2 linked regions of the Homo sapiens genome follow. The protein of the gene in region 1 purifies or fractionates together with the protein of each later gene. This does not show direct contact. Each region holds a gene or a part of one and is shown on either strand. Other genes may lie near its edges. The genes, in order: SLITRK4 and CNPY3.

The links.
Region 2: the proteins of SLITRK4 (region 1) and CNPY3 purify together in Homo sapiens (affinity purification with mass spectrometry; 2 studies listed by BioGRID and IntAct, with this or other methods). This does not show direct contact.

The regions. Positions count from the first base shown.
Region 1 is NC_000023.11:143,632,239-143,641,628, forward strand, and holds the start of SLITRK4 (SLIT and NTRK-like protein 4 precursor), read right to left. Parts: upstream 3,864-9,390; 5' UTR 3,497-3,863; intron 2,854-3,496; exon of another isoform or gene 2,641-2,853; intron 2,266-2,640; exon of another isoform or gene 1,890-2,265; intron 1,344-1,889; exon of another isoform or gene 1,219-1,343; intron 1-1,218.
Region 2 is NC_000006.12:42,930,097-42,939,490, forward strand, and holds the end of CNPY3 (protein canopy homolog 3 isoform 1 precursor), read left to right. Parts: intron 1-4,281; exon of another isoform or gene 4,282-4,378; coding exon 4,379-4,502; intron 4,503-5,315; coding exon of another isoform or gene 5,316-5,377; intron 5,378-5,440; coding exon of another isoform or gene 5,441-5,477; coding exon 5,478-5,574; coding exon of another isoform or gene 5,575-5,658; exon of another isoform or gene 5,659-6,269; intron 6,270-7,620; coding exon 7,621-7,743; intron 7,744-7,993; coding exon 7,994-8,111; intron 8,112-8,471; coding exon 8,472-8,695; 3' UTR 8,696-9,198; downstream 9,199-9,394. UniProt on the Homo sapiens protein: Toll-like receptor (TLR)-specific co-chaperone for HSP90B1. Required for proper TLR folding, except that of TLR3, and hence controls TLR exit from the endoplasmic reticulum. Consequently, required for both innate and adaptive immune responses.

The sequences.
Region 1 (9,390 bases):
TCCAAACACCCACCCGCCCTTCCTAATATTACCACCCCATGTCCCTGACTGTAAACGCATAAAGAATCACTTGTTGGTAGAGTTTAATGCTTAGCAAAATAACTCATCGTTTTCAGGTCCTTAAATACTGCATATATACACAAACATACACGATGCTTCCTGGAAAAGATTAAACAACACAAGCAGAGTGCATTTTATTGATACTATTTTAGCAATATTAGTCTTTTCCATTGTGAATGGGAAGCTGGGTGCAATTTCAATATCGTTATCTCCAAATATTAATTAAATACATAAAATACCCAGGAACACACAACAAGGAAATGATGCAAAGAAAGAAGTGTCGCACAGAAACTCCTTTGTTTATTTTACCCACGAGGAATCAGCTAGTGGTAAAACCGAACATGTCTCAAGGTAGACAACCCATTAGCCATGACCCAGGAGGATTTGCATTTTAAGTAGTTTGGTTCAGAATACAGCCAGCACTGCTGAGATGCTATTTGGCTGCCATATAGACGTGCATTTCCCCTATTCACCATGAGAGCATGATTGGCATTGCAAAAAGAAGTCATAATTCTTAACTATGACATCACCTAAAGCAACTTTCATTGTAAAATCAAAATTTCACTTGATATTTTTTGCCTTGTTATGAATGTGGTTTTCAACAGCTATTTTGGTTCAGTTGAGTCATTTCTTGTTACTAAACCACCACCCCACCCACCTCAAAACAAAGAAACCCAAAAGCAACCAAACTAAAAACCAAACGCAGAAAAAAAAAAATCCTTATAATCCGAATTCAGTACAAAAACAAGAACCAGGAATCTCAACACATCTGAAAATGCATAAGGAGCTGCCCTCCTCCTGGTGATTGCTACTTTAAGTAGCAAGGGGGGGAAAAGGCACTAGTAAGAGCCAGGAAGTTCCCAAATGCAGCTCTTGTGAAACAGAGGAAGCCACAAGCAGCTGGAGGGGCAGGCAAGAGAGAGAAAGAGTCCAGTTGGTCCACCAAGGAGAGAGGAAAAGAGGTACTGAAAGGGCAAGAGACCATGGAAATGTGGAGAAAGGAAGAAAAAGAACTCGGAGAAGGGAGCTACAAAGAGGGTAAAGGGAGCACTGAATGTATGCGAATAAAGCCTCACACTCCGGTGGTACCACTGAAACATGCACATTTAAACATCAAGGGAAAAACGCAAAAAAGAAAAGAAAAAGCCCACAAAGTACCAGCTGGGTACCAAGAGCCTTCTCTGTGGCTGCTGGGAGCTGTCCGTCTTCCTCTCGGTGCCCTGAAAGACCCTTGGCTCTCACGACCAGCCAGGACTGAACAAACCTAGCCCGACCAAAAACAAATCCTGCATCCACCGGAGTGCAGCGCCTGGCACTCCGCGACTGGGAGGAGAGAAGCGGCCTGAGGGGGGCAGAACACTGATGGGCTTCAGGGCGGTGGGCCGAGGTGGCTCCCCGAGAGCTCCCTCGGGAAACCCCGCTGGCCCGCCTAAGGCTCGGATGGAGGTGGAAGAGGTTCGCGGAGAGACCCGGCCATTGCCGCCCGGGTGCGCTACCTCGGGCGGGCGGCGAGGAGGCTGGAGGGGCTGCTAGCGCGTACCGCAATGTTTTGCCGCATCCCTGTTCCCGGAGCCGGCCGCTCAGCCCCCTCCGCGTCAGGGGCCCAAGCAGCAGCCTGGCGGTCCGTGTAGCGGAGGCGGGGTACCGCGCGGGATGTCGCGGGGGCCTTCAGTCCCGCCGCTCACACATTTCTCCGCGCGCTCCCGTCCCACAAGGGGCAGCTGCCGGAGTTTCAGTGGACCTCTCTAGACCCAGGCGTGCGGTGGGTGAGGAGGAAGAGAGGCCAGATCAGGCCGCCTCGAAGACGTTGGCACTAGGGAGTCACTGACCTGCTTGCCACGGGCAGAGTGACCCTGTGGTTTTGTGGCTGCGAGCGGCGGCCCAGGCTCCCCCTTGCCTGTTCTCCCTCCCTGGCCAGCTACAAAAATCCTGCTCTCACCATGCCAGAAATCAGCTCAACATTTAGGCCCCTTGCAAAGTCGCGCTGGCAGCGCTCGCCTGGCTTTGCAGAGCTTTTAGAGTTACCCACCGGCTCTTCCTCTGGTATTCCTAGTCTTGCCGAGCGCTAGCAATCTCCGACCAACCCGCGGGCCACTGCCCCGAGCCTCAGATCCACGTCTGCGGAAAGTGGCTGCGAGTGGGGTGCAAAAATAAAGCCCAACCCAGCCCAGCGGCCCGACAGCCGGAGCCACCCGAGACCTGTACAACTTGCCCCGCCGCCCTGGCCGCTTGGGGTATGGTGGGGGGGGGGGCGGGCAGCGATGCCAAGGACACCCGGATCCTTTCCGGTCCTCAGCGGCATGAGACCGCGTCGTAGGCAGGCAAGTGGGAGGTGGAGGGCAGGATTAGCCACCTCGGCCACTTTGGCCACTCAACCGGCCCCAAACCAACAGGACCCAAACTAAAAATAATAAGCTACCTGCCCCCTCGGCTCGCGTGCGCGCGCGCGAGATCTCTCTCTCTCTCTCTGTCTCTCTCTCACACACACACACGCACGCACACGCGCTACTGAGCTGAGCGGGGAAGAGGCAGCACGCGTGTCGGTGCAGCTTGTGCAGCCCCCGCTGAAAATTCACCCACCTCTAGAGCCCAGCGTCTGGTGCAGGGCCCGCGGCGCCGTGACCTGCGCTGCTGTTTCCACGATGGTATCTATGTGATTCCGGACAGAGCTCCTCCGCGCCCGCTCGCCCGTCAAACCCACGGAGCAGCCCCAGCAGGCGAGCAGGCGGGCCGGCGGGCAGGCGGGCAGCGGCGCGCGCGCGCACCCGAGCAGACACCGCGCGCGCACCCAGCGCCTAGCACACGGGCTGCACCTTTACATACACGCGCTGAATCCCCGCCCCCGCTCTCCACCACCCCCCCCCACCCCGCACACAAGCAGTCCTTCCTCCCGACACTCGACCACTTTGACCCCCTCACATTCCTGAGCTCCTACCCCCGTCCCCCATCCAGACATGCCCATTTGATTCCTCTTCTACCCACACACCCAGAAAGACAGCGCGCTTTCCTCCCGGCATCCGCCCCCTCTTTTTGCCTAAAACATTCCCTAGGGAGGAGCGACCCCTTTCCTCAGGCGTGGAGACCCCAGTCCTCTAACAAGGGCGCACTCGCCTCCATCCCCCCCACCACATACACACACACTCGAGCCCTTTTCTTCTCTTCCAGTCCCCTAATAACGAAGGAACACACACACACACACACACACACACACACACACACACACACACACACGGGGCATTCCTTTGAGAGAGCAACCAAGAAGCCAGGAAAAGCCAAAGAAACACTGGAGAGCCTGGGGGAGGGGGGCCGAGGGAGATCGATAGGGTCGTCGAGTCTACGCGGAATTGAATAATTACAGGATGGAGGGGAATGAGTCAACAACAATGACATTCAAATGCAACAATCATACTTGGATTTTGTATCACGGGTACGGTACCTTTGGCTAATTGTCACCCCGCAGAACGGAGGGCTCCTGGAATACTTCTCCGTGGCGGTCGATCCTGGAAGGAGCCTTCTTGGGAACCAATTTCCTAGGATCCAGTAGTATTCGCACTCCCCCTACCTGTCTGCGCGTAAGGGGCCAGGGGCTTTAAGGCGAAAGTGTGAGGCTTTAGCCTAAAGTGAGACTATTTAGCCGGGTTAGAAGGAGACGGGTTAATTATCCGCACCTTAGAACTCCGTGGGCCTTTGGTGCAGAATGGGTTAAGCCGGATGATCTTGGAGCTGGGGGTGGGGATAGGGGATAGGGGATAGGGGTTGAGGAAAGAGAGGCGTGGGACTGGGAGAGATGCCGCACTTGCGACCAAAAGAAAAAAAAAAAAAAAAACTACTTTGGCTACTGAGCATGCCCAGTTCCCAGCTCAAGCCCTATAAGGGAGGCATTGTGTGCATTCCACTTCTCCGGGCTTTGGTGGTGACCGGGAGGGGAGTTTGACTGGGGAAGGGGGTGGTAGTTGGGAGACATTAGGGAAAGGGGGTTGGAGAACAAGGTTTGAAGCTTTGGGACTGCTCAGGAGGGACTGTGAAGAGAGAAAGGGAAGGGACCCACGGAGTACCTTCGGGAGACGGGGAGAAGGAGAGGAAATGGACTAAGAAAAGTCACTTCAGTCGCCCCTCATTGTGTATACCAAAGAGGCTTTAGCAGCTGAATCTGAAATATCCAGTGGCTGCAAATCCAACGTGTGGATTGTCTAGGCCCCTTCTTCTACCCTTTTTGTTAGTGCTTCCACAAGAGATAAGAAATATTCTGAGGAAGGGCCAATGTTCAAACCAGTTTCATGCAAATTGATAATTTCGTTAATAAGCTTGTTAAGAAAATAAATAAACCTGGGGGAGGGGAGCAGAGAGGAGTTGGCTATCATGTATGTATTTCAGATACCTGGCTTTCCTAAACAAAAGGCATAAACATTGGATGTGCTCCCATCCCCCAACCTTGCTGTTTTTTGTAGGAGCTTGGCTAAGAAAAACAACTCTCTCTCTCTTCGTGTCTGTGGGAATAAACTAGCTTTAGGTAAGTAGAGCTAAGTTATAAATGGGAAGTATTTCCCTAGGACTCTTGGTAGCCTATTATTTGCCACATTCAGGTAATACTGCCAGGCCCATTTCTTCAGGACCAGTGTGTTGCCCAATTTACTTATTCAAATCCCAGCGGCTCTAGCCACAATAGAGCACAACCGGTATCCAGAAATGTTCTTGCTTAAAAATGAAAAAAAAAATCTTTAAGCTAAAACTAGCAACAGCTTTGAAACCAGAATTTGGCTGTCTGCCTGAACTCCTACAGTTAAACATTTACCATAATTGGTTGATGTTTAAAGGCCCCAAATCTAGGTAGAAACATCTGATGGGCAAAGGATTTATTACATTATTTGTGAATAATGGTCTACCTTCTGTATCATCTATAGTAGTCATTCATATACATGTTTCATTGTTTTTCATTTTTTGTCATTTTATGGGACTTCCGTCAGGTTATATTCACACAAATGTTCACCGGGCACAACATGTATACAGAGATGCACGTACAATATGTAAATGAATACTTAAATAGATATGCGTGTATGGGCATATTTCTTTATGACCTTGCTAAATATTGTGTCGTTCATGAAGAACTCTTTCTCTACCTTCACTCCACATTGCCTTGAAAACTGTAATCATCCTCTCTTTTACAAACAACCTAGAGACAGAAATTGGGCAGCATTGGTAAAATTTATCTTATTCAATGTGAAATCCATTATGAAATAGCATTAAGGAAACACTAAAATATTTGTCTATAACAGCGTATGTAATTGTGCAGCTCCTTTTAGCAAAGTGAATGATGTTTCCTTCATAGGTAACAGCTGCAGAATGTTGAAAAATCCCTCTACTCTTGCACACTTGGACAAAACAGATCCTGCTAATTAATAACTCACATTTGCATTTTATTGTGTAATGCAGTTTGAAAGTAGTAATGGGTATCAAAACAAGTTGGCATTTATTCTAAATGCTAACAATTCAGGAAGCTGAATATATTTTATCCAGATAGGTGAAATGTTTGTCTTTTACTACAAATGTTAACAAGAGTCAATAGAATGAGCAAAAAAAGTTTACCTGAAAATTCTAAGTAATGTGATAACTGAAAAGGCCAGATTTGGACAGTAAATATCAGATGATTTAAATGCCTATCTTTATTCAACTTTAGAAACTGTTCTGAGACTTGGCTATATTTAACTGCAATAACTGTGAAATGTTATTTTTCATATGGATATGGAGACAAATCTGAAAGCCACTGTAGCTAGATCATCGATAAATTACAATTCATAATATTCCTAAGAACTTATCTGTGATTAATATTCAACTTTTTTAAATGAATGCTTTAAAATAAAATGTTTTGCTACTTAAAAAGATAAAGTGGACACTCATAAAATAAAACAGAAGTAACAACTTCCATGTTTTATGCTTATTTTGCTTTCAAAGTAATTAACCCAATCCTTTAGTCCCACAGTCCCTTTTCCGTCCCCTAGAACTACAGGTGACATCCCAATAGAACAGTAGGAAATGACACAGAATTGCTAGCTTAACAAAGGAAGTGAATATATACATAAATAAAAGTGTTAAGAAAACTCCAGCACTATTTATGGCCATTGAAAGAAAAACAAAATTGATGTTCTTCCTAAAATGTAAGCATGCAAATATTGTGAGTTTTGCAATACTCTCACGGTCTTCCTCCAAATGTTTTACCTTATTTCATCTTGACTTTTTAGGAGTACAACCAGAATCGTAGGTCTACACTGATATACTGTGTCTCCCTCCATCAGGGAAAAAAACAACTGCACTAAGAATTTCAACAAGATCCTGTATACCCTCCGTTCCGAAGGCAGTTTGGAATTAAGTCATTAAAACACTACCAACCGAAAGTGATTATAATGCCAAGTCTTGGCCCTAGTCAGCGGTCTTTCACTTTCACTGTATTCCTCATTTATCTTGCCTTGTCTTAGGCTGCTGCTCAAAATCAAATCAGCCTTAATTTTCGTATCCAGGTATCACAGATGATTCAGTGTATTTTAATATTGAAGATTTATTTATATTCTGGCATTTTAACAGTTACAAACTTGCTATTTCTCTTTCATTTTTATTTATTTATTTTTGAGACAGAGTCTCACTCTGTCACCCAGGCTGGAGTGCGTTAGTGTGATCTCGGCTCACTGCAACCTCTGCCTCCTGGGTTCAAGCAATTCTCCTCCCTCAGCCACCTGAGTGGCTGGGATTACAGGCATGTGCCACCATGCCCGGTTAATTTTTGTATTTTTAGTAGAGATGGAGTTTCACCATGTTGTCCAGGCTGTTCTCAATCTTCTGACCTCAGGTGATCCGCCCATCTCGGCCTCCTAAAGTTCTGGGATTACAGGCGTGTGCCACCGTGTCCGGTCACACACTTGCTATTTCTCTAAGTGGAATACAAGAAAGTTCTTAGGATGTTAATATATCTTCTGGGAAGAAATGTTTCCATGATCAAATAAGTTTAAAAGACCCTTGGTTCCGTAAAGCTAAACATTTTATTTTTACTTTGGGATTTTTCAACACAATTAATTATGTTTAAATGAGCTTTTATTTACCAAGGGAAAAGGGATATGGCATGTGGCATTTCACAGACTTACTTAACAATGGAACCCTTTTTTCTATCTATATAATTTGAAAAACATACTAATAGCCCATTTTTACAAATTTTCTGGAATTTAGAACATGAAAGGAAGTTTTCAGATCATAATTAACCCATTCAATAGTAGCTACTGTCTGTTGAGTGCCTCTTCTTTGCTGTGCTGCCTACAAATATTATTTCATTTAGTTCTATGAACAAGGAAGGGATTATCATACTTATTTTAAAAATGAGGTTAAGTGACCAGGCATGGTGGCCCATTCCTGTAATCCCAGCACTTTGGGAGGCTGAGGTGGGGAGATCACTTGAGCCCAGGATTTCAAAACCAGCCTGGGCAACATGGGAAAAATCGTCTCTACAACAAATACAAAAATCAGTGGTGCATGGTGGCACATGCTTGTAGCCCCAGCTGCTTGGAAGGCTGAGGCGGGAGGATCACTTGAGCCCAGGAGGTCAAGGCTGCCATCAGCTGTGGCCATGCCACTGCGCTGCAGCCCAGCCAACAGACTGAGACTCTCTCAAAATAAAATAAAATAAAATAAAATAAAATAAAATAAAATAAAATTCAGGGAAGGTAAACAGTTTGCCCGAGGTCACATGGTGAGTAAGTGATGGTCAAGATTTGACCCCAGATCTTTGAGGTTTTTCCAGTACACCACATTTTCGTTTTCACAGGGGGATTAGGGAATTTTTAACTTTGAAAGCAGAATAGACTTGAAAGCTGGGCAGGGTGACTTAACGCCTGTATTCTCAGCACATTGGGATGCCAAGACAAACAGTCTGGGCAGCAAGGTGAAAAGCCATCTCTTTAAAAAATAAATTTAAAAAAATAGCCAGGCATCGTGGGGTGCACCTGTAGTCCCAGGTACTAGGGAGGCTGAGGTGGGAGGATCGCTCAAGCTTAGGAGGTCAAGGCTGCAGTGAGCCATCATCAAGCCACTGCACTCTAGCCTGAGCGACAGAGTGACCCTGTCTCAAAAAAAGAGAAAGGGATAGATTTGAAAGCAGAATAAATTTTCCAAAGATGAATACTTGAGACATAAATGTTTTCAAGTATTAAAGTATGAATACTCAGCACAGGAATAAACAAATAAATGACATTAAAAACAGTTCACATCAATTATGCATGACAAGGTCTCTTGAATCAACTGATTTTACCTTTTGCCAGTAGTAGCCTTGTTCTATCCATTCTGCTCTTTCAACTCTCATACCTGAGTTGATTCTGAATCTGTGATGATGTCTCAAATGTTCCTTATTAGGGATAATCACTTTCACTATCACCAAATGAAGCCATGTGTATTAGTCAGTGTTCTCTAGAGGGACAGAACTAATATATATACACACACACACACACACACACACACACACACATATATATATACACACACTTATATATTTTATATATACATATATATATATATATATATATATATATATATATATATATATATGGGAGTTTATTAAGTAGTATTAACTCACATGATCGCAAGGTCCCCCATTAGGCTGTCTGCAAGCTGAGGAGCAAGGAATCCAGTCTGAGTCGCAAGGCTAAAGAACTTGGAGTCTGATGTTCAAGGGCAGGAAGCATCCAGCATGGGAGGAAGATGTAGGCTGGGAGGCTAAGCCAGTCTCACCTTTTTACATTTTCCTGCCTACTTTACATTCCCTGGCAGCTGATTAGATGGTGCCCACCCACATTAAGGGTGGGTCTGCCTTTCCCAGCCCCCTGACTCAAATGTTAATCTCCTTTGGCAACACCCTCACAGACACATCCAGGATCGATACTTTGCATCCTTTAATCCAATCAAGTTGACGCTCATTATTAACCACCACACCAAGCAAAGCAGTAGTGTTCATCCCTAGACTTATTCCAGTTAAGACAAAAGGATTGTTATAAAATAGGATACCAAATGAATTGGAAAATGTGAGACTAGTTGATTATTTGATTAGGTTATATCAATTAACCTGACCTTCCATTTTGCTCAGACTTCTTTATAGTACAGCTGGTAACCTGGTGTCCTTTTCAGAAACTCAGGCATCAGGTGTGAATGTATTACAGTCTGTGTAGCAAGGCATTGGCTAATTTTTCAAATAACACTTCACTCAGAAATTATTATTTCTAGAATAATAATAAAGAGGGGTATGTTGTTTTGCAGGGTCTTTGTAACTTTGGCCCCTAATGGGTACTTGTCCCTATGGCT
Region 2 (9,394 bases), on another chromosome or scaffold:
TTAGCCGGATGAAGAGAAGTGGAAAGAGAGGGGCCCACTCAGGAAACTACAGAGGCAGAGGCCTGCCGGCTGAGAAGCTAAGAACGAGTTTGAGGAACTGAAAAGCTCCAGATGACTCATCTTGGGGGAAAAAAACCTAAGACTTTCCCCTTTTGCCCTCACTGCAACCCAATCTGTGTAGTTGTCTGTTGCACCCACTAACAACTCCTCGAAGGCAGGAATTTTTGTCTTAGATACGTATTCACACAGTGTCTGGTAGGCACTCAATAAATGTTTTGAGAATACAGATGATTAAATGGGAGACTGTGGGTGTGTGTGAGGAGGAGGATCTGGATCTGAGGAGCCCTTTGGGGGAACAATAGAGCCTATGGGGAACTTGAAAGAAGATTTTAGGACTTTGGAGAAAAGGTGAGTCCCAAAGACATAGGCGTTGAGGAACTACAGAGAGAGAGAGAGAGGGAGCTACCAGCGAGCCAGGACTATAAAGGACCTATTTCTTTTTCCTCAACTCCGTCCCTTAGTTTTCTCCTCAGACCTTACAGTCATGCCTGCCTTCCTAGCCCCGTAACCCCAGGGCCCCCAGAAAGTTGGCTGTGAATCTCTCATCTGAATTGAAAGCCTACATCAGGCCAGATGTTCCCTAAACACTGGAAAGTGGGTTTGGGGTAAGTTTCGGACACATAATCCTTCCATTAGAGAGATTAAAAGGATGCTTTAGAGATAAGCCGACTTCACTGGTAGGGCACCCAGTATGAGTTCAAGCCTGTGCCTTCCCCCGTACATTCTTTTCTTTTTTTCCTTTTTTTTTTTTATGAGACTGTCTGGCTCTGTTGCCCAGGCTGGAGTGCAGTGGCGAGATCTCGGCTTATTGCAACCTCTGCCTCCTAGGTTCAAACGATTTTCCTGTCTCAGCCTCCTGAGTAGCTGGGATTACAGGCGCATGCCACCATGCCCAGCTAATTTTTGTGTTTTTAGTAGAGATGGGATTTCATCATATTGGTCAGGCTGGTCTTGAACTCCTGACCTCAAGTGATCCACCTGCCTTGGGCTCCCACAGTGCTGGGCTTATAGGCGTGAGCCTCTGCTCCTGGCCGCCCTTTCACTTTTCGCTCTTCCTCTAGTCCTGATAGCTTTTTTTTTTTTTTTTGAGATGGAGTTTCGCTCTTATTGCCCAGGCTGGAATGCAGTGGCGCGATCTTGGCTCACCGCAACCTCCAGTGACCCACCCTCCTCGGCCTTACAAAGTATTGGGATTACAGGCATGAGCCACCGTGCCTGGCCTTTTTTTTTTTTTTGAGACGGAGTCTTGCTCTGCCCAGTCTGGAGTGCAGTGGTGCGACCTTGACTCGCTGCAACCTCCGTCCCCCAGGTTCAAGGATTCTTCTACCTCAGCCTCCCGAGTAGGTGGGACTACAGGTGTGTGCCACCACTCCCGGCTATTTTTAGTAGAGACGGGTTTTCACCATGTTGGCCAGGCTGGTCTTGAACTCCTGAACTCGGGTGATCCACCCACCTTAGCCTCCCAAAGTGCTGGGATTACAGGCGTGAGCCACTGCACCCAGCCCAGCTAACTGATAGCCTTTCAGCGTTTCGCTTCCTCTTCTCTTTCTTTTCTGTCTTATTATTATTATTATTATTTTTTTTTGAGACGGAGTCTTGCTCTGTTGCCCAGGCTGGAGTGCAATGGCACAACCTCGGCTCACTGCAACCTCTGCCTCCAGGGTTCAAGTGATTCTCCTGCCTCAACCTCCTGAATAGCTGGGATTACAGGCACCTGCCATCATGCCCGGGTAATTTTTGTATTTTTGTAGAGACTGGGTTTCACCATGTTGGCCAGGTTGGTCTTGAACTCCTGACCTCAGGTGATCCTCCCACCTCAGCCTTCCAAATTGCTGGGATTACAGGCATGAGCCTCCGTGCCCAGCCTGTATTCTGTCTTATTCTGATATCAAAGAGCCCATACTCTCCCTCTTATTATTCTCATAGCCTAAGGAGCTCACATTTATTCTCCTTAGGCAACATTCACAGACTCACGGAAGCATAGAGATGCCCAGGATCTCTATATCTCTATATCTAGAGATCATTCTAGTCTACCCTCATTTGGTAACTGATGAAGATTAATTGAAAAGGGATTTGCAGTCACAGGATGGCTTGGCAAACTCCAACCGTTAGGTTCATCTTAATAGTATATTTGTTTGTATTATTATTACACCTTTGTTATTAAATGCTGACTGTGTCTAGCCCACCAAGCCTGCCTCCTGGCTCAGTAGCCTGAGTGGAACAGGCCTCGGCACAGAGGAAGGAGAACCTGCCCGGAAAAAAAGAGTGGGTGGATGTCAGTGAGGGTCTGGTGTCTGTGCCGTGAATCTCCTGTGAGTCTGGTTCTGGGTGGGATCCGCAGAGGAGGTCTTGAAGAGGTAATGTTTGGAAGAGCTGGAAAGCAAGGCTGTGGTTGATGGGTATGAGAGAGAAAGGATGTTCCAAACCTCCCCTTTCCCCACTCCTGGGGAGGGCGTGGGAGGAGGGGCAAGTGGTGCTAGAAAAATGATGTGCCTGCACAGAGTACAGGACAGAAGAGGGGAGGGAGCCCAGATGGTCCTGGATGGAGAGCTGGGGAGGTGAGACATCCCCAGTTCATTGCAGACTTGAAGATCACCAGCTTATTACTTGGAATTTGTATGTGTTTCAAATTCTCCAAGCCATTGATTAATTTCACCAAGCAGGCCTCCAGGGGATGTATTTATTTTTGTGGTAAATTGGTATTCTAGCAGACTGTGCTGTCAGTGTTAAAACTGCTGATGGCATTTAGCCTTCAGACTGGTATTCCATTCAGAGGCATCAGAAGACGGTCTCTATCAACAAGATTTATCGAGCGTCCAGCATATATCAAGTCCCAGGCTAAGGAAATACGAAAAAATCTAATACATAATGCACATTTTGGGGACCCTTGTGGTCTATGTGGAGAGACACATCAAATGACTGAGGGTCCTTAGGGAGAGCATGGATCCTGCAGAGGCCCAGAGTGAAATCTAGAGCAATTGGCATTAGTGCAGAATGGCTTCCTGGGGGAGAGGCTTATAATGCGAGGTGGGCAGGATGGGCAGAGAAGCCCTTAGAAGGCATTAAGTATTTTCCTAGGGCCTCAGGCACTTCACACCCTCGGTGGTAGCACTGTAGCACTCTATACAGTGGTAGTTATTTGTCTACACCTTTATCTGCTGCATTAGACTGAGTATCTGGAAGGGAGGGGACCTTGTTTTCATCTCTGTATCCCCAGGCTGACACGTAGGAGTTGCCTAATACCTATTTGAGGAAGGGTAAGAGGAAATGAGGAAATAAATGTGCGGAGACAGTAGGAACAAGAGCTCTCTGGAGGGCATGGAGCAAATTAACTTGGTAGAAATAGAGCTGATGTTGGAACACATATGAAATCAAGTAATCTAACAACCATAAAAGATGTTTTGGGGACAATTAAGGAAATTTGAATATGGACTACTGGGTGATGTTGGAATTGTTAATTTTCCAAGTATCATAATTGTTCTATGGTTATGTAGGAGGAGGTCTTTTTTCTCAGGAGATACATGATGATATATTTATCTCAAAAGGTCATGTTTGCCACTTACTTTCAAGATGGTGTAGCAAAAGAAATGTATATATTGTTGAGATATTATAATTATATATTGAAGAGAGAATGTGGCAAACTATTAACAACTGTTGAATACAAGTGGAAGGTATTCATTGTGTTCTTTCAGCTTTTCTGTATGTATGCAATTTTAGAAAGTAAAATGATAGACCCTGGCGTGGTGGCTCACGCCTGTAATCCCAGCACTTTGTGAGGCCGAGGTGGGCGGATCGCTTGAGGTCAGGAGTTCAAGACCAGCCTACCCAACAAGATGAAACCTGTCTCTACTAAAAATACAGAATTAGCCGTGCATGGTGGTGCATGCCTGTAATCCCAGCTACTTGGGAGGCTGAGGCAGGAGAATCGCTTGAACCCAGGAGCTGAGATCTCATCATTGTACTCTAGCCTGGGCAACAAGAGCGAAACTCCATCTCAAAAAAAAAAAAGGAATACGAAGAACAATTGCTTAAGGGCAGGATTTACAGTAAGTACATGCTCTTACACAAGAAACAGTAGATAAAATAGAAATCCTAGAGGCATTCCTGAAACTGGGGTTAATCAGAAGTCAACATGGCACATTAGCATCCAAGATGGAGTTGCTTTAGCCTCCACAGGTTCTAACTCCTTCCCTGCCTTGAGTGCTGATTTTGGTCCTCCAGTCTAGGAAAGGATGCCCACCTGGATCTGTTTTGCTGGGAGCTGGCCTCCCATTAGACTCATGTGCACTCAGTGGGCTGTGCTACCTCCCTCCCCCAGTGTGTAAATATGTTGCTGTGGAGCTGAAGTCAGCCTTTGAGGAAACCGGCAAGACCAAGGAGGTGATTGGCACGGGCTATGGCATCCTGGACCAGAAGGCCTCTGGAGTCAAATACACCAAGTCGTAAGTGAATGGGGACTCACTGGCCTGGCCTGCGTTGCTGCTGGAGGCTTCAGGGGTTTGGAGTTCCCTTCTCCTAGCTAGGCAAACCCCCTACAAGGGCATCATTTGTAACCAAGACCTGAGTTTGCCCACTGATTCTGTCCCCAGCTAATTGGGTGACGTGCATAAATCTCTTAACTTCTTTATGCTTCAGCAGATTTCTCATCTCTAAAAGCAAGACTGTTGGACTATATCATTGATTCTCAGACGCTTGGATTTCACAGAGCAATGCAAGTTTTTTTTTGCGACGGAGTTTCACTCTTGTTGCCCAGGCTGGAGTGCAATGGCATGATCTTTGCTCACTGCAACCTCTGCCTCCCGGGTTCAAGAGATTTTCCTGCCTCAGCCTCCCAAGTAGCTGGGATTACAGGCATGTGCCATCACGCCCAGCTAATTTTCTGTATTTTTTTAGTAGAGATGGAGTTTCACCATGTTGGTTAGGCTGGTCTCGAACTCCTGACCTGAGATGATCCGCCTGCCTCGGCCTCCCAAAGTGCTGGGATTACAGGTGTGAGCCACCACACCCGGCCACAGTGCAATTTTTTAAAACATTAGTAACAGGATTACCAGCTTTTTATTTTGCTAGGTACAAATATAGTTTTTAAAAACCCAATTCTGTCAGCTGTGATCATCCTTTCAAAGAGAATGATATTTTACTATCAAAATTTAATAATTTTGCTTTATCAAAAAATCTAAATACTGAATCATTTAGCTTTATAAAAAATTCCTTCCCTTAGAGCTGTTAAAATTTTGTCTCTCTGGTCTGTGTTCCAGCATTTCAGATCCCCCAGACCAGATGACCTATCTTCCTTCCAGCTCTGAGTCACTTCCCATTGGTGAGATGTGCAGGTGTTGGGGCACAGGGCTGGAGGGACAGACCACTAACCCACTGCGGCTAGGAGGGGAACTCAGTTCCTCATCCTCCTGTCTTGGCAGGGACTTGCGGTTAATCGAAGTCACTGAGACCATTTGCAAGAGGCTCCTGGATTATAGCCTGCACAAGGAGAGGACCGGCAGCAATCGATTTGCCAAGGTTGGATTCGGGATTGTCCTTCATCCGCTCTGGGGTCAGGCCTGCATGTATCTTAGTGTGTCTGCTGGTGTGAGTGTGATTTGAAGATGACCACCTGGGATCTTCCTTCATTGCCTCTTCCCATTCTTTGATTGCCGTTTGTGCTCCTCCCCTCTTGAGTGGCCTCATTTTTCAGGCACATGCATGAGGGTCTGGGCCTGTTCATGAGGGTCCTGCTTCAATCTCAGACACAGGCAGAAATGCTCCACAGTTGCTGCCCCCGTGGGAACCTAAAGACACTAGAACGGGGAGAACTCAGCAAGATCCACGATGTGCAGAAAGGTGGGGGTTTAGGCGAGGTGTCAGAGGACACCTCGGTGGGAGTGACTGCCCAGTCCCATCTCTGGGTCCACACAGCACCTCCCACAACCCCGCTGGGATGCCCTTGTGATGGCCCATGTACTCAGTATGTGTACGAGTGCTTTTCTCTCTGGAGAATGAGCTGCTTACAACAAGGCCCATAGTTCTTACTCTCTACATCTTCAGTGCCTGGCACAGGGTAAGATAGTTGCCACCCACATTTTTCTACCTAAGTTTCCTTCTAGCAAAGGATACCATTCATAAACTCCTGGGATACCTAAGGGAATAGTCTCAAGCAGCAGAAATTTGTATGAATTTTGCACTCAGTAATAAATCTGTGTTTGCTTTAATAAAAAGTGTTTAAGAATTATTTTTCATAGCAGGAAAAAAATGAGAAACAATCTAACTCTACCAATAGGGGATTAAATACGTTGATCCAGCCGTTTGGTGGACTAGTATGCGGCTGGAAACGAAGCATGGGGAGGCTCTTTAGGAACTGAATTCAATTGATTTTCAAGGTTTTTGTGTGTTTGTTTGTTTTGGAGACAGAGTCTCACACTCTGTTGCCCAAGCTGGAGCGCAGTGGTGCGATCTCAGTTCATTGCAACCTCCACCTTCCAGATTGAAGCTATTCTCCCACCTCAGCCTCCTGAGTAGCTGGGATTACAGGCACCGACCACCACGCCCGACTAATTTTTGTGTTTTTTAGTAGAAACGGGGTTTCACCATGCTGGCCAGGGGGTCTCGAACTCCTGACCTCAGGTGATCAGCCCACCTTGGCCTCTCAAAGTGCTGGGATTACAGGCATGAGCCACTGCACCCAGCCCTTCAAGGTATAAGTAAAAAGGGCAAGTGCAAAATAGTGTGTATGCTATACCACTGCTTGTGTAAAAAGGCGGGGGGAGGATATATTTAGATATTGGTATTTGTATGAGTTATCTCTGGGAAAATAGAGGAAATGGATAGTATGTTTTCTCTGGGGATAAGACCTAGGCAGCTAGCAGAGATAGTTTTTACAGAATAAAGGGTCTACCTGCCTCAGCTATGCCTTTTTCCCACTGAGGAAAGACACAACCCAGGAAGAACGGAACAGCAGGTCTGGATGATATGGGAGTGTTTCCAGCCATAGTGAGGGGAAAGAGCTAAGACAAACCTATTTCCTGGAAAAGAAGCATAAAGCCAAAGGGCCTGAGGGCAGCCGCAGGTCTTTTTGAAGCGATGAGGTGTGCAGAGGCAGATCAGGGGGTATATGTGCAGGGGTTGTGGGAAGCAGGCCTAAAAGAGGGAAGAGGAAGGTCAGGTCAAGGATGAGGCCAGGTGCGGTGGCTCACGCCTGTAATCTCAGCACTTTGGGAGGCTGAGGTGAGTGGAAAACTTGATGCTAGGAGTTCGAGACCAGCCTGACCAACATGACAAAACCCCAACTCTACAAAAATTAGCCGGGTATGGTGGCACGCCTTTGTAGTCCCAGCTGCTTGGGAGGCTGAAGCAGGAAAATCGCTTGAACCTGGGAGGCAGAGGTTGCAGTGAGCTGAGACGCTCCAACCTGGGCGACAGAGTGAGACTCCTTCTCAAAAAAAAAAGGATGAGGATCCTTAGAGGGCGTTGAGCATTGGTCTTATAGCTGGGTTCTTAGCCACCACTGGGAGACGAGGGTGGGAGGGAGAGAAGGGAGCTCCGCCTGCCATATCTGGTCGCTTCTTCCAGGGCATGTCAGAGACCTTTGAGACATTACACAACCTGGTACACAAAGGGGTCAAGGTGGTGATGGACATCCCCTATGAGCTGTGGAACGAGACTTCTGCAGAGGTGGCTGACCTCAAGAAGCAGGTACAGGCCCTTCAGCCCTTGGAAGGGTTGCTGTGCCCAGTGAGGGGCTGGTGGGGATTGGGTCTGCTCTGAGGAAGTCCACCCAGGCCGGGGTGGCTTTGGTCAGGTCATTTCACCTCTCTGGCCTCAGTTTCCTTAGGTGAACCGCTGCCACTGCCTACCTTGCAGTGGGTTGCGAGGCTTAGCTGAGCTCCTCTAGGAGCGAGTCAGGTGCTGGGGCTTTGCCAATATGAGGTATTATGATTAACAGTGTGATGTGCTGGTGGAAGAGTTTGAGGAGGTGATCGAGGACTGGTACAGGAACCACCAGGAGGAAGACCTGACTGAATTCCTCTGCGCCAACCACGTGCTGAAGGGAAAAGACACCAGTGAGTTTGGGGAAGCAAGGGCAGGCTGGCTCTGGATGATTTGTTTGCTCTCCCTTGGGGGAGGTGGGTAGGAGGAGAAACAGAGGGCACCAGAGGGCATTGTAGGATCTCTGCCCTTGAAAGGCTTGATTGGCAAGACATGGTGAAGTAAGAGTCACTGAAACCAGGTGCAGAATGATGGGCAGACAAGTCAGATGCCCCCAGAGGGGCCTGGTGGCCACAGCGAGAGGCAGGAGGCAGGGAGGCTGATGTCAAGCACAGTCCCAGTTGCTACTCCCACGGCTCCCTGCTCAGTGCTCCTTGCCCAGCACCCCAGCCCTGAGGCACTTCTGTTGAGGGTCTCTCTCCTCCACACCCTAGGTTGCCTGGCAGAGCAGTGGTCCGGCAAGAAGGGAGACACAGCTGCCCTGGGAGGGAAGAAGTCCAAGAAGAAGAGCAGCAGGGCCAAGGCAGCAGGCGGCAGGAGTAGCAGCAGCAAACAAAGGAAGGAGCTGGGTGGCCTTGAGGGAGACCCCAGCCCCGAGGAGGATGAGGGCATCCAGAAGGCATCCCCTCTCACACACAGCCCCCCTGATGAGCTCTGAGCCCACCCAGCATCCTCTGTCCTGAGACCCCTGATTTTGAAGCTGAGGAGTCAGGGGCATGGCTCTGGCAGGCCGGGATGGCCCCGCAGCCTTCAGCCCCTCCTTGCCTTGGCTGTGCCCTCTTCTGCCAAGGAAAGACACAAGCCCCAGGAAGAACTCAGAGCCGTCATGGGTAGCCCACGCCGTCCTTTCCCCTCCCCAAGTGTTTCTCTCCTGACCCAGGGTTCAGGCAGGCCTTGTGGTTTCAGGACTGCAAGGACTCCAGTGTGAACTCAGGAGGGGCAGGTGTCAGAACTGGGCACCAGGACTGGAGCCCCCTCCGGAGACCAAACTCACCATCCCTCAGTCCTCCCCAACAGGGTACTAGGACTGCAGCCCCCTGTAGCTCCTCTCTGCTTACCCCTCCTGTGGACACCTTGCACTCTGCCTGGCCCTTCCCAGAGCCCAAAGAGTAAAAATGTTCTGGTTCTGATTTCTGAGTCCTCTGCAGCCCTCAGAGGTGCCCTGGAGCCTCTTGTTCTTTCCTGCCCCTCGCCTTCCAGCCCGTGGGGCTGAGGAGGGGAAGGCTAAAACCCACCCACTCTCGGGAGCAGCAAGTGCTGGGAAGGCCCAGGGTTGTCTTGGGGTGAGGGGAGGCATGGGCATAGGATGAGGCCCAGGGCAGTGCACTGACCTTACGCTGCTCCCTCGTGTCCTGGA